Regions from separate parts of the Homo sapiens genome. Here region 2 is linked to region 1. The links come from fine-mapping of genetic effects on gene expression. Tissue or cell type: whole blood. Region 1 holds a variant in brackets; the other region holds the start of a gene. All regions are shown on one strand. Distances are from middle to middle.

What was found. PIP is the estimated chance that this variant, and not a neighbour inherited with it, causes the effect.
Region 2: it holds the start of KIN, and the variant in region 1 is fine-mapped to the expression of KIN in whole blood (INTERVAL, PIP above 0.99).

Annotation. Positions count from the first base shown.
Region 1 is chr10:7,756,621-7,762,248 of GRCh38, reverse strand. KIN (Kin17 DNA and RNA binding protein) reads left to right here. Exons shown (of 13, transcript NM_012311.4): 12 at 2,259-2,359. Among named protein-coding and RNA genes, the nearest start is that of KIN, 29 kb to the left of the region's middle. The variant TG/G (reference allele first, on the strand shown) is at 3,573.
Region 2 is chr10:7,785,958-7,790,957 of GRCh38, reverse strand. KIN (Kin17 DNA and RNA binding protein) reads left to right here and starts at 2,965. Exons shown (of 13, transcript NM_012311.4): 1 at 2,965-3,138. The coding sequence starts at 3,025. ATP5F1C (ATP synthase F1 subunit gamma) reads right to left here and starts at 2,781. Exons shown (of 10, transcript NM_001001973.3): 1 at 2,695-2,781. The coding sequence starts at 2,750. RefSeq lists enhancers at 1,697-2,240, 2,693-3,012.

The DNA.
Region 1 (5,628 bases):
CCTTTCCTGGAATACTTTTTTTTTTTTTTCCTGAAGCAAAACGTAGACATATATGGATAGCATTTGTTATATTAGGCTTATGGTTATAGGTTGAGAATCTCTCATCTGAAATGCCTGGACCAGAAGAGTTTCCAATTTTGGATTTTGGAATTTGCATATACATAATTGGATATCTTAGGGTTGGAACCCATGTCTTAACACAAAATTGATTTATGTTTTATTTTATTTTTATTTATTTATTTATTTTTGAGACACAGTTTCACTCTGTCACCCAGGCTGGAGTGTGGCGGCACGATCTTGACTTACTGCAACCTCCATCTCCCAGGTCAAGCAATTCTCCTGCCTTAGCCTCCCAAGTAGCTGGGATTACAGGCATGCATCACCACATCTGGCTAATTTTTGTATTTTTAGTAAAGACGGGGCTTCACTGTGTTGGCCAGGCTGGTCTCAGACTCTTGACCTCAAGTGATCCACCCACTTCAGCCTCCCAAAGGGCTGGAATTACAGGCCTGAGCCACCATACTCATCCTCATTTATGTTTTATATACACCTTACACACATAGCCTGAAGGTAATTTTATACAATATTTTAAATAATTTTGATTGCATCTTGACAGTGGCCTGTCACAGGAGGTCAGGTGTGGAATTTCCCACTTGTGGCATGATGTCAGCACTCAAAAGATTTTACATTTTGGAGCTTTTCAAATTTTCAGATTAGGAATGTTCAATCTGTGATGTATTTGTTTAGCTCTCTGCGATAGTCAAGTGAAAGTCTGTGTTATTTTGCTTTTTTTCCCCTTAGGTGTCTTTGCCTTTTGGAAACTTATCCGTATCTGAGTACAAACACTACTTTGACCAGGTTGTTTACCTCTGACTCAAAATCTTCCTGGGGGTGTCATTGCCAATGTAGTGATAACATCAGTCTCTGGAACTTCTTATTATCATATTCTTTATTCTTTTTCCCCCTAAAGTAAAAATTCTTTTTACAGATTAGAAAAATTTATGTTAGCTTTATTGTGGTAAAATTGATGTACAATAAATCACACATATGTAAAGTATACAATTTGGTAAGTTTCAACATGTGCCTACTTCCATAAAACCATCACTACAATCTAGCTGATGAATAGATCCTCTCATTTCCCTCTCTAATCCCTCCCTCCTACCTTCTGCTCCTGCATCCTCTGTCTTCCTCGACATCTGCTGACATGCTTTCTGTCATAGTTCAGTTCATATTTTTCTAGAATTTTATATAAATTAAGTTTCTATAAATATAAATGTGTCCTGTTTTCTGGTCTGGCTACTTTCACTCAGTGTAATTATTTTGGATTCACCTATGTGGTGGAACGTATCTGTAGTTCATTCTTTTTTCTTGCTGTATGTCATTGTATGGATATGCAGTATTCCCCCTTAACCTATACCTTCCAAGACCACCAGTGAATGCCTGAAACCATGGATAGTACCAAACACTATATATACTATGTTTTTTCCTACATACATATCTATAATAAAGTTTAACTTATGAATTAGGCACAGTAAAAGATTGAGAATAATAACTAATAATAAAATAGAGCAATTATAATAATATAGTATGATAAAAGTTATGTGAATGTGGTCTCTTTCTCTCAAAATATTTTATTGTACTTTACACACCTATTTTTGGACCACGCTGACTGAGAGTAACCAAAACCTGGGATAAGGGGGGACTACTGTACCAGTTTGTTTATCCAGTTATCTGTTGATAGACATTTGGCTTATTTACAGCTTTTGGCTGTTAAAAATAAAACTGCTGTGAACATATACGTACAAAGCTTTGTGTGGATATCTGGTTTCTTTTTTCTTGGGTAAATACATAGAATGGCTCAGTCACATGTTAGGTATAAGTTTAAATTTTTGTAAAACTGCCAAACCATCTTATGAATTTTGCAAAGAGACAAAGTAAGCTAAATTGTCTCTGATTACTTCTGGACTCTGAACATTTTCTCCAAGTACCTTATATTCTTTGCAGTCTAAAAGTAAAACATACATATTCCTTTAACAAATAATTGGGGGAAAAATGAGAAGTCTTATAATGTTCGAGTAGTGAAAGTATCCATACACCGCACTAAAATACTACACACTTCTTAAATGATTGAGAACTTCTAAGAAAAAGGGTTTTGTTTTTTATTATGTTTATTCAGTGTAGTACATTTTGCTGTAACAAGTTAGAAGAAAAGTGGAGATATTTCTTCACATTAATTTTTATATTCTTTTCCATCATAGGAAAAAGAATTCTAGTTTTAAATGGAGGCTACAGAGGAAATGAAGGTACCCTAGAATCCATCAATGAGAAGACTTTTTCAGCTACTATCGTCATTGAAACTGTAAGTTTGTTTACACAAAGACAGAAATTTCAAAATGCTTTAAAAATGTGCCATAGTTTTTTTTAATTGGATTGTTCTTTATTTTAGAATTTGAGTTTTTTGTTAGCCTTCTATCCTATTTGGAAATCTGTAAGCTTATTTTCTCCAGTGACTCTGCCATTGCTAAAGTATTTTATTTTCTGATTATAAAAGAAATGTGTACTCATGCATAAAACCCCAAAAAACATAATTTAATATAAATAATTATAAAAATTAATCATAGTCCCCCAGCCCAACAATAAACCCCATTAATATTTTGGTCTGTTCCTTTCCAATCTTGGTGTTTTATGAAAGTGTGTGTAATAGGTACAGTTTTATATCCTTTTTTCCCCTCATATCGAATATAAAACTCAATTTGGCATAGTAAAGTTAGTGGGGGAAGTAAAGTCATTGTCAAGAGGGAGGGAACCACAGAGGTCAACCACTTTTTAAAATGTCTCCCCTTTTTTCATAAAGGATTTAAGGTAGCAGAGATCAATACAGTAATTTAAAGAACTCTGACTTATAAATAAAGTTGGTTATTGACTTAGAACTGATATTTCACTCACAGGTCTGTGAGTGAGGTCTGAGATATCTTCAGAAAGAAAGTTTCCTTTTAGAACTCTGAACTACTGCACTGCATATCTTTGATGCTAAACAAAAGAATTTTTTATCTCCAGTACAGTCAGTTTTAGTATTTCTGGGGGAGCTTGGGAGTAATAGCTCACTTAGAGAGTTTAATGAAAGTTTAGACTCTTCAAAACATTGCACATAATTGCCAAATTTTATTTGTTCTCTTGGGGAGTTTATAGGCCCCCTAAGCCCATGGACCTGTTAGAGAATATGTGTCTAGGAAGGTTTTCTGGAAAAACCATTTAGGTCCTTATTTGAGAGAATTCTCATTTCAGTAAATCAAGCTTTTCTCCTTTTTTTTTTTCTTTCTGATCCTGACAATGCTAACCTAGAAGCTGTTACTTGCTAACTGTTACTAACGTAAACTAAGGGGAAGAAAGGGAAAAAGGACTCCTACTTGGCATTGAGGAACATGTCAGTCTGACTAAATTAGCAGATTGAGTTTTAACAAAAAACTCTATAAGATTTTCTCTGACTCTATCAGCATAAGGCAGTAGAAAATCCAGTATTTCCTTGACAACTTGCTTATCCTTCCCTTATTAATTTCTTTTTTTTTTTTTTT[TG/G]CATGGACCATGCATGAAACTTACCTTATTAATTTCATAGTGCTATCAAATGCAGATCCTGTTTCATGTTTTCATCTCAGGGAAACACAAAACAACTGATTACTGTTGAGGCTGTGTTGAGTTCCATCTCGATACCTTTGGTTCGCAGGTTGTGTCCATTCATCAAAAACTAATTTCTCACCTTCTGCACTGTAGACCCAGTTTCATCTTCTGTACTGAGGTAGAACTTAGCAGCAAATCCACATGAAAAGCCTTTCTGTTTGATTGCAAAGCAACATGTACTTCTTTTAGAAGAGGGAATCTACCAGCTTGGCATGGTGGCTCATGCCTGTAATTCCAGCACTTTGGGAGGCTGAGGCGGACGAATCACCTGAGGTCAGGAGTTCGAGACCAGCCCGGCCAACATGGAGAAACCCCATCTCCACTAAAAATACAAAAATTAGCTGGGCGCGGTGGCAAATGCCTGAAGTCCCAGCTCGGGAGACTGAGGCAGGAGAATCGCTTGAACCTGGGAGGCAGAGATTGCAGTGAGCCAAGATTGCGCCACTTACTCCGGCCTGGGTGACAGCGAGACTCCGTCTCAAAAAAAAAAAAAAAGGGAATCTGTCTCCTAATTTTTTTTTCTTCCTTTCTTCAGCCTGTCCTCATTAAAAAAAAAAAAAAAATCTCTGTATATGCTTGTGTCATCACTTGAGCTTTGCAAGTGGTTATTTTTATCATTTCTGGCACCTTAAGTTTTCATGTCGTTGATAATATTTGAAATTTATACATATATCAAGCAGATTTTTAACATCCAATAAATTGTTCCTAAATAGCTTCAGCTTTTTAGCTATTTGCCCTATAAGCCCAAATGTCTGGCTCCCTTCTTATTCTCCAGATTTATGGTACTTATCAGAAAAATGTAATTGACCATAGACCATTAAACATGATAATGAAAAATCTAACCTAGGTTATACTTTATCTGGGAACTTAATTCCTTTAAATATGATAATTATTTGTTGTGAAGGGAAGCAGTAAAAAAATGTTAAAATCTCAGTTCTAGGGTTAGAGTCATCATCATTGTCATCATCATTATTGTCATCATCATCATGTTATATTTTGCAAGGGAGAGGATTAACTGTCAAATTTAATTTTAATTTTATTTAATTTAATTTTATTTTATTTTATTATTTATTTTCAAGACAGAGTCTCACTCTGTCGCCCAGGCTGGAGTGCAATGGCGCGATCTCAGCTCACTGCAACCTCTGCCTCCGGGTTCAAGAAATTCTTCTGCTCCAGCCTCCCAAGTAGCTGGGATTACAGGTGTGTGCCACCATGCCCAGCTAATTTTTATATTTTTAGTAGAGATAGGGTTTCACTATGTTGGTCAGGCTGGTCTCAAACTCCTGACCTCAGGTGATCCACCTGCCTCGGCCTCCCAAAGTGCTGGGATTACAGATGTGAGCACTGCGCCCGACCCAACTCTCAAATTTTAAACAAAAGATTAAATAATAATTAGAGTTGAAAATTATTGAGCTCTCACTCATATTAAGTTCCAGGTCTAGTCACTTTATATGAAATAACTCATTTATATTTCCCAACAACCCAATCATACAGACATTACCATTATTTCCACTGGGAGATAATAAGGCACAGAGAGGAAACTGAAGGACAGAGAGGTTAAATCAATTGTTGAAAGTGAGATTTGAACTTGGGGAGTGTAGGTTCACAGCCCATATTCTTAGCCTCTGTGTTCCCAGGTTATATCCGCTTTTGTGATAGAAAATATCTTTCATTAATTAAGTTTTCCTCTTTCCCTTTTTGTTCGATATGAAAGAAGAAAATAAAGTTAAAGTTGGACTCTTTTTATAATCTGGACCAGTGTAACTATCACAGCCAACCTAGACAAACATGTTTGAGTATCGTAATGCTTACAAAATGATATTTCCTATAAAAAAAAGAAAACCCCAAATGGACAATGGCACAAACATGGTAGAAGTTAACGTTTCACTCTAAAAACCCCAAATGGGTATTTTTGATCAGGGAACTCTTTCTAAGTGGCGATTTGTGAACCCA
Region 2 (5,000 bases), 29 kb before region 1:
TAGAAACTGTACTTAAAAACTCTTCATTTCTCTACTGATATACAGCATTTGGATCCCTATCAGCATTTCCCCCATTGTCCTACATGCTTTGCAAATACTCTAATCCTCACACTAACCCACTGAATTGTGCACTTTTATTGCATATATTTGACAGATGAGGAACTGGTGGGACAGACACTGAGTAACCTGCCCAAGGTCACAGAGCTGCTAAGTGGCAATCAGAATTCAATCCCTGCCGTCTGAATGCAGCCCTTCAGGGCTGGCTACAGAGTCTCTCTCTTCATACAGTACTACACTCTGCTGCCTCACATTTTTTACATTTATTAGTAAATATCTGCCCTCATGGTCTCAGATGACAATTTGTCTTTTCTCTCCTGAAATGCCATCTCCTTATCGGTATCTGTAGTTTATGACTACTGACACGTTATTAAAAAACAGTTCCATTTTAGAGACTACTGAACTCTAAGAAATAGAAATGTTTTTCCCAAATTTGAAGACAGTAAAATCCGGGATTCTTTCTCTCAAATTTTTAATTTCCATTTTCTTATATGCTGCTTTAAAAAAAAGGTTTAATTTTCAAAACGTTAGAGTATTTTGCCGATACCCTAACAACTATTAAAATAACCACTGTGAATTTAAGTAAGCCTAATGTTTTTATGTTAGCATGGTAGCCTCTCTGAAAACAAAAACTAAAATAACAAATTGTACTTTAAAAAACTTCCAGTAATCAAGACAGAAGCATGGAAATATGCCTCTTCATGGTTCGTTAAGACAAAGGTCTTTTCTTCCCCTTCCAAATTAATTCTGTGGAGTGGTTTTAATTTCTGAATTCAAAAGGCAATTATAATTCATGGAAAGAGAAATGGCAGAAGAGGAAGGAAAGACATTAAGCACCAGCAGTGAAGGAATACATGAAAAGAAGAAGACAGAATATGCTTTCATAGTGGAACACTGTTGATTGATGATTTATAAAACCAATATTCCAAAGGGATTAAGGTCAGGATTAGGACCTTTATATGCTGATTGTGGTTCCGATTTAAGCTCCTAACAGTAGTTGTCTTGAACTGAGAGCTCTTATTTAAAACAATCCTTCACTAAAAGAGCTTCAAATTATCTTACAGGTGCTTTAAAAAAAGATATTTCTAAAATTTTTTGTAAAATATTGTCTTTGTTTCAGAAACTATTTCCACTTTTTTAAAGATCAACTTAGAAACTAAGGTTGTAAAAATACTGACAGATAACATTAATGCGTGGCAAGAAGGTAAGGCCAGGAGAGCTGATGTTCGCAGAGCACCACTGCATGCCAGGCACTGTCCCAGGAAACTGACTGAGACCTTATCTATTTGCTCACCATCACATTTGGGCACTTTCCAAGTACCACCGGGTGGAGTGGAAGCACTCAGCTAATGTCTGCTGAGTGGTTAACAAGTGGGACAATCTATACAACTGAGAATTCAACTACAGTGACCTTTTAATTCCCATGAATGTTCTTTTTCCATATTAGAGAAAAAAAAATCTGACTTCCAAGGCCAAGCCACCAAAAATTTTATGTGGCTAATTCACATCAGATATCATTCTGAAAATCTCGTATATTACTATCAGTTATTTGCTTAATGAAAAACCTATTTATTTCAACTAATGCTTTATGGTCCCTTCATATAAATTAGGATACGAAAATCTAGTTTAGCACTGTAGCGCCTTAGAAATCCTCCACACTGTTAAGAGCAGGGAATTGCTACGACACAGCCTAGAATCCCCTTAGCAGCGTGTCTGGAATTCTTCCAGATTCCGTCAAGCTTCAAAACTGAACAGCACCACCCACAAACCAACTTTTACCTGCCCATTCCCGGGCCTTCTAATATGCACTTCCCCCAGCCCAGGTCCCCCTACCCGGAACTAATGTTTAAAATTCTCGAGGCTCGTGGCACCCTTTAGTTGCATGTCAGTTAACAAATGCCACTTAAAAGCCCACCGAACTCCTCCCCCAGGACCTGGGGGCAATTTCATGACCTTGCAGGGTTACGGTTTCAGCAAGTGGTTTCAAGGTAGTGCTAGGTGTCCTTCCCTTCCCCGCCCTCAGACAGATCTGTACGGTCCCTTCTGCACCAAAACCACCCTCAGAGGCATCTAGGATGTTCGCCTTTGCTGTTGCAGCACCCAGCAAAGCGTCTGCAACACGGGAGGTGCTCGACGGCCGCGCTCTCTGACTCGATCGAATCTTAAAGGGTCACTCTGTCCAGCACTACAGGGTTTCAAAGGGCGTCAAGGACAAAAAGCACGACTTAACCTTCCCCTGGGCTATTGCTCAGGCTCCCGTCACCTTGCAGGCCCTGAGACTGGGGGCCTGGCTTGCAGTGGAAGTGGAAGCTCAGGAAGTGCTGATTAGCTGAGGGAACTCAAGACCGCCCAGACGTCAATTTGGACTCAGGCCGCAGTCCCGAGGTCCCAGGTGGCCCTCCGACCTCAGGGAACCGGGCGGGACCTTGCTCCGCCGGAGCCCGGCCCTGCGCACACCTTGCCCGACCTCAGAGCCGCTTCCTGCAGCCCCCGCTACCCGGCGCCTCCGACGGGCCAGGGGCCCAGCTAGGCCCTGCGACCCCACATCTGCCCCCGCGCCCATCTCCTCCTCCCTGCCCCGTGCCCAAGCTCTTCCATCCCTTGCGGTCCTGCCGATCTTCCCGCAAGCTGCCATACCATTGCGGCTGCAAGGTCCAGGCCGACAGCCCAGCGACACCCGCGCGAGAGAACATGGTAGCCACAGCCCTGCTGAAGGTCGGTCAGGCAGGCCTCAGCGCGCATGCGCCGAAGCTCCCCAGCGCGCCCCTCCCACCTTGCTCTCTTCTTCAGTCTCGTTTCTTCGCGCTACGGCGAGGGGAGTCTCGCGACCGTTGCAACCCAGTCTTCCCAGGCCCCACCTCCTTCCGCCTCTCAGCTGGGATTTGTCCCGCCCACCGCCGCCAGCCCGGTTCCGTTTCCGGCTGGCTGAGTACTGGGGTCCAGAAAGTGATCGCTGCCGTGGTCGCCATGGGGAAGTCGGATTTTCTTACTCCCAAGGCTATCGCCAACAGGATCAAGTCCAAGGGGCTGCAGAAGCTACGCTGGTATTGCCAGATGTGCCAGAAGCAGTGCCGGGACGAGGTGAGTGGGCCCGGAGTGGCCCCGTCTTCCCAGGAGGGCCCCTGGCAATCCAGGATCAGGTCCTGGACGCGGGGCTGAGGGCGCGGGGCTGGGGCTCCCGGGGTCCGGGTCGTGAGGCTTCTGAGGTCTGCAGTGGGCGAGTCAACTACTCAGCGCACGAGAGCCGTCCCTCCCCGCAGCCCCCGGGCCCAGCGGGCAGCCTGTGTTCTGCGACCCCTCATTCCTCCCCAGTCCGATCCCCACCACCAAAGAAATGAAATCAGAAAAGGTTTTGCACCCCTCACAGGGGCGGGGATACTGCAATACTAGACGCCCGGGCAATGCCAGTAACAGTCATCAGCTCTTACTTGACTTGACTCTTAAGAGAAACAGGGTGGTTAGGATTCACTCCTCTTTTGGGATCAGGTGAAAAAGGAGAGCTAAGCTCTTCCACACTACTCATCTAGCAAGCATTTATTGAGCACCTACACTGTACCGGGCACAGAATAATATTGTGGTTAAAATTATGGATTTATCTGGTTTATGGATATATCAGACTGTCAAAATTTAAAGTCAAGCAGGGCCACTTACCAACCGTGTGGTCTTGGGCAAGTTATTTACTTATATTCCCCTTTACTTATCTGTAAAGAGGGAATAATAATTTCACCTACTTGTAGGATTGTCGCTGAGTTTTAAATGAGTGAAGTATATATAGAGTGGCTCAAGGAGTCTGGGCAGATCTCGAAAAGCCTTATATGGCTACACTATGGAATTTACACTTTTCCCCATTAAAGAGGTGGTTGATTGAATGCTGTGCAGGCTAGTGATGTGATCATATTTTTCTCCGGAGATTGGACTGGATTGGGTAAGGGTGGAAGAACACTGAGGCAATTGGAATAATCTAATCCAGTGTTTCTGCAAGTGAAGGAAGAGGTATTTTAGGTAGGACTCATACTAATATTGATACAGTTACTCTCTTTAGTTCTATTAAGGAATACCTGTATATGCATTATCTAATGTCTTAGTCTGCTTGGACTGCCATATAAAGTGCAGTAGACTGGGTGGTTTAAATGACAGAAATTTATTTCTCACAGTTCTGGAGGCTGGGAAGTTCAAGATCAAGGTGCTGGCATGGTCAGATTCTAGTGAGGGTCCTCTTCTTGGTTTGCGAAACTGCCTCTATCCTCACAAAGCAGATAGAGCAAGCTCTAATAGAAACTTCTCTTCCTCTTTTTTTTTTTGAGATACGGTCCCACCCTGTTCATCATGCAGGCTCTACCCTTGTGACCTCATCTAAATCCAGTCATCTCCAAAGGCCCACCTTTTAATTCCATTCCCTTGGGGGTTAGGGTTCAATATATGAACTTTGAGGGGACGCAGACATGCAGTCTGTAACACCCAGACTTAACACTTTAAGTAATTTTGCCGTATTTACTTTTTAAAAAATATTTTAAGGTAAATACCAATATCAGGATATTTCACCTTTAAATACTTAAATAGGCATCTCTAAAATTTCAGGATACTTTTCTATATAACCATAGTATATGTCATCAACATAACACAATTAATAGAAGTTCCTCTTTATCATCTAATACACATTCACACTTCCTCAGTTGTCCTCCAACTGCTCCTTGAAATCAAGATTCGATCAAAAGCAATAGACTGTTATAGGTTTGGTTATTAGGACCTCCGCTCCCCTCTCCAGTCTCCCTCATCATCAACATCCTGCAACGAGGTGTTATATTTGTTACCATGGATGAAACTACATTGACACATCAGTATCATCCAGAATCCATAGTTTACATTAGGGTTCACTCTTGGTGTTGTACATCCTATGGGTTTTGACAAATGCATAATGATACGTATTCACCATTATAAAATCT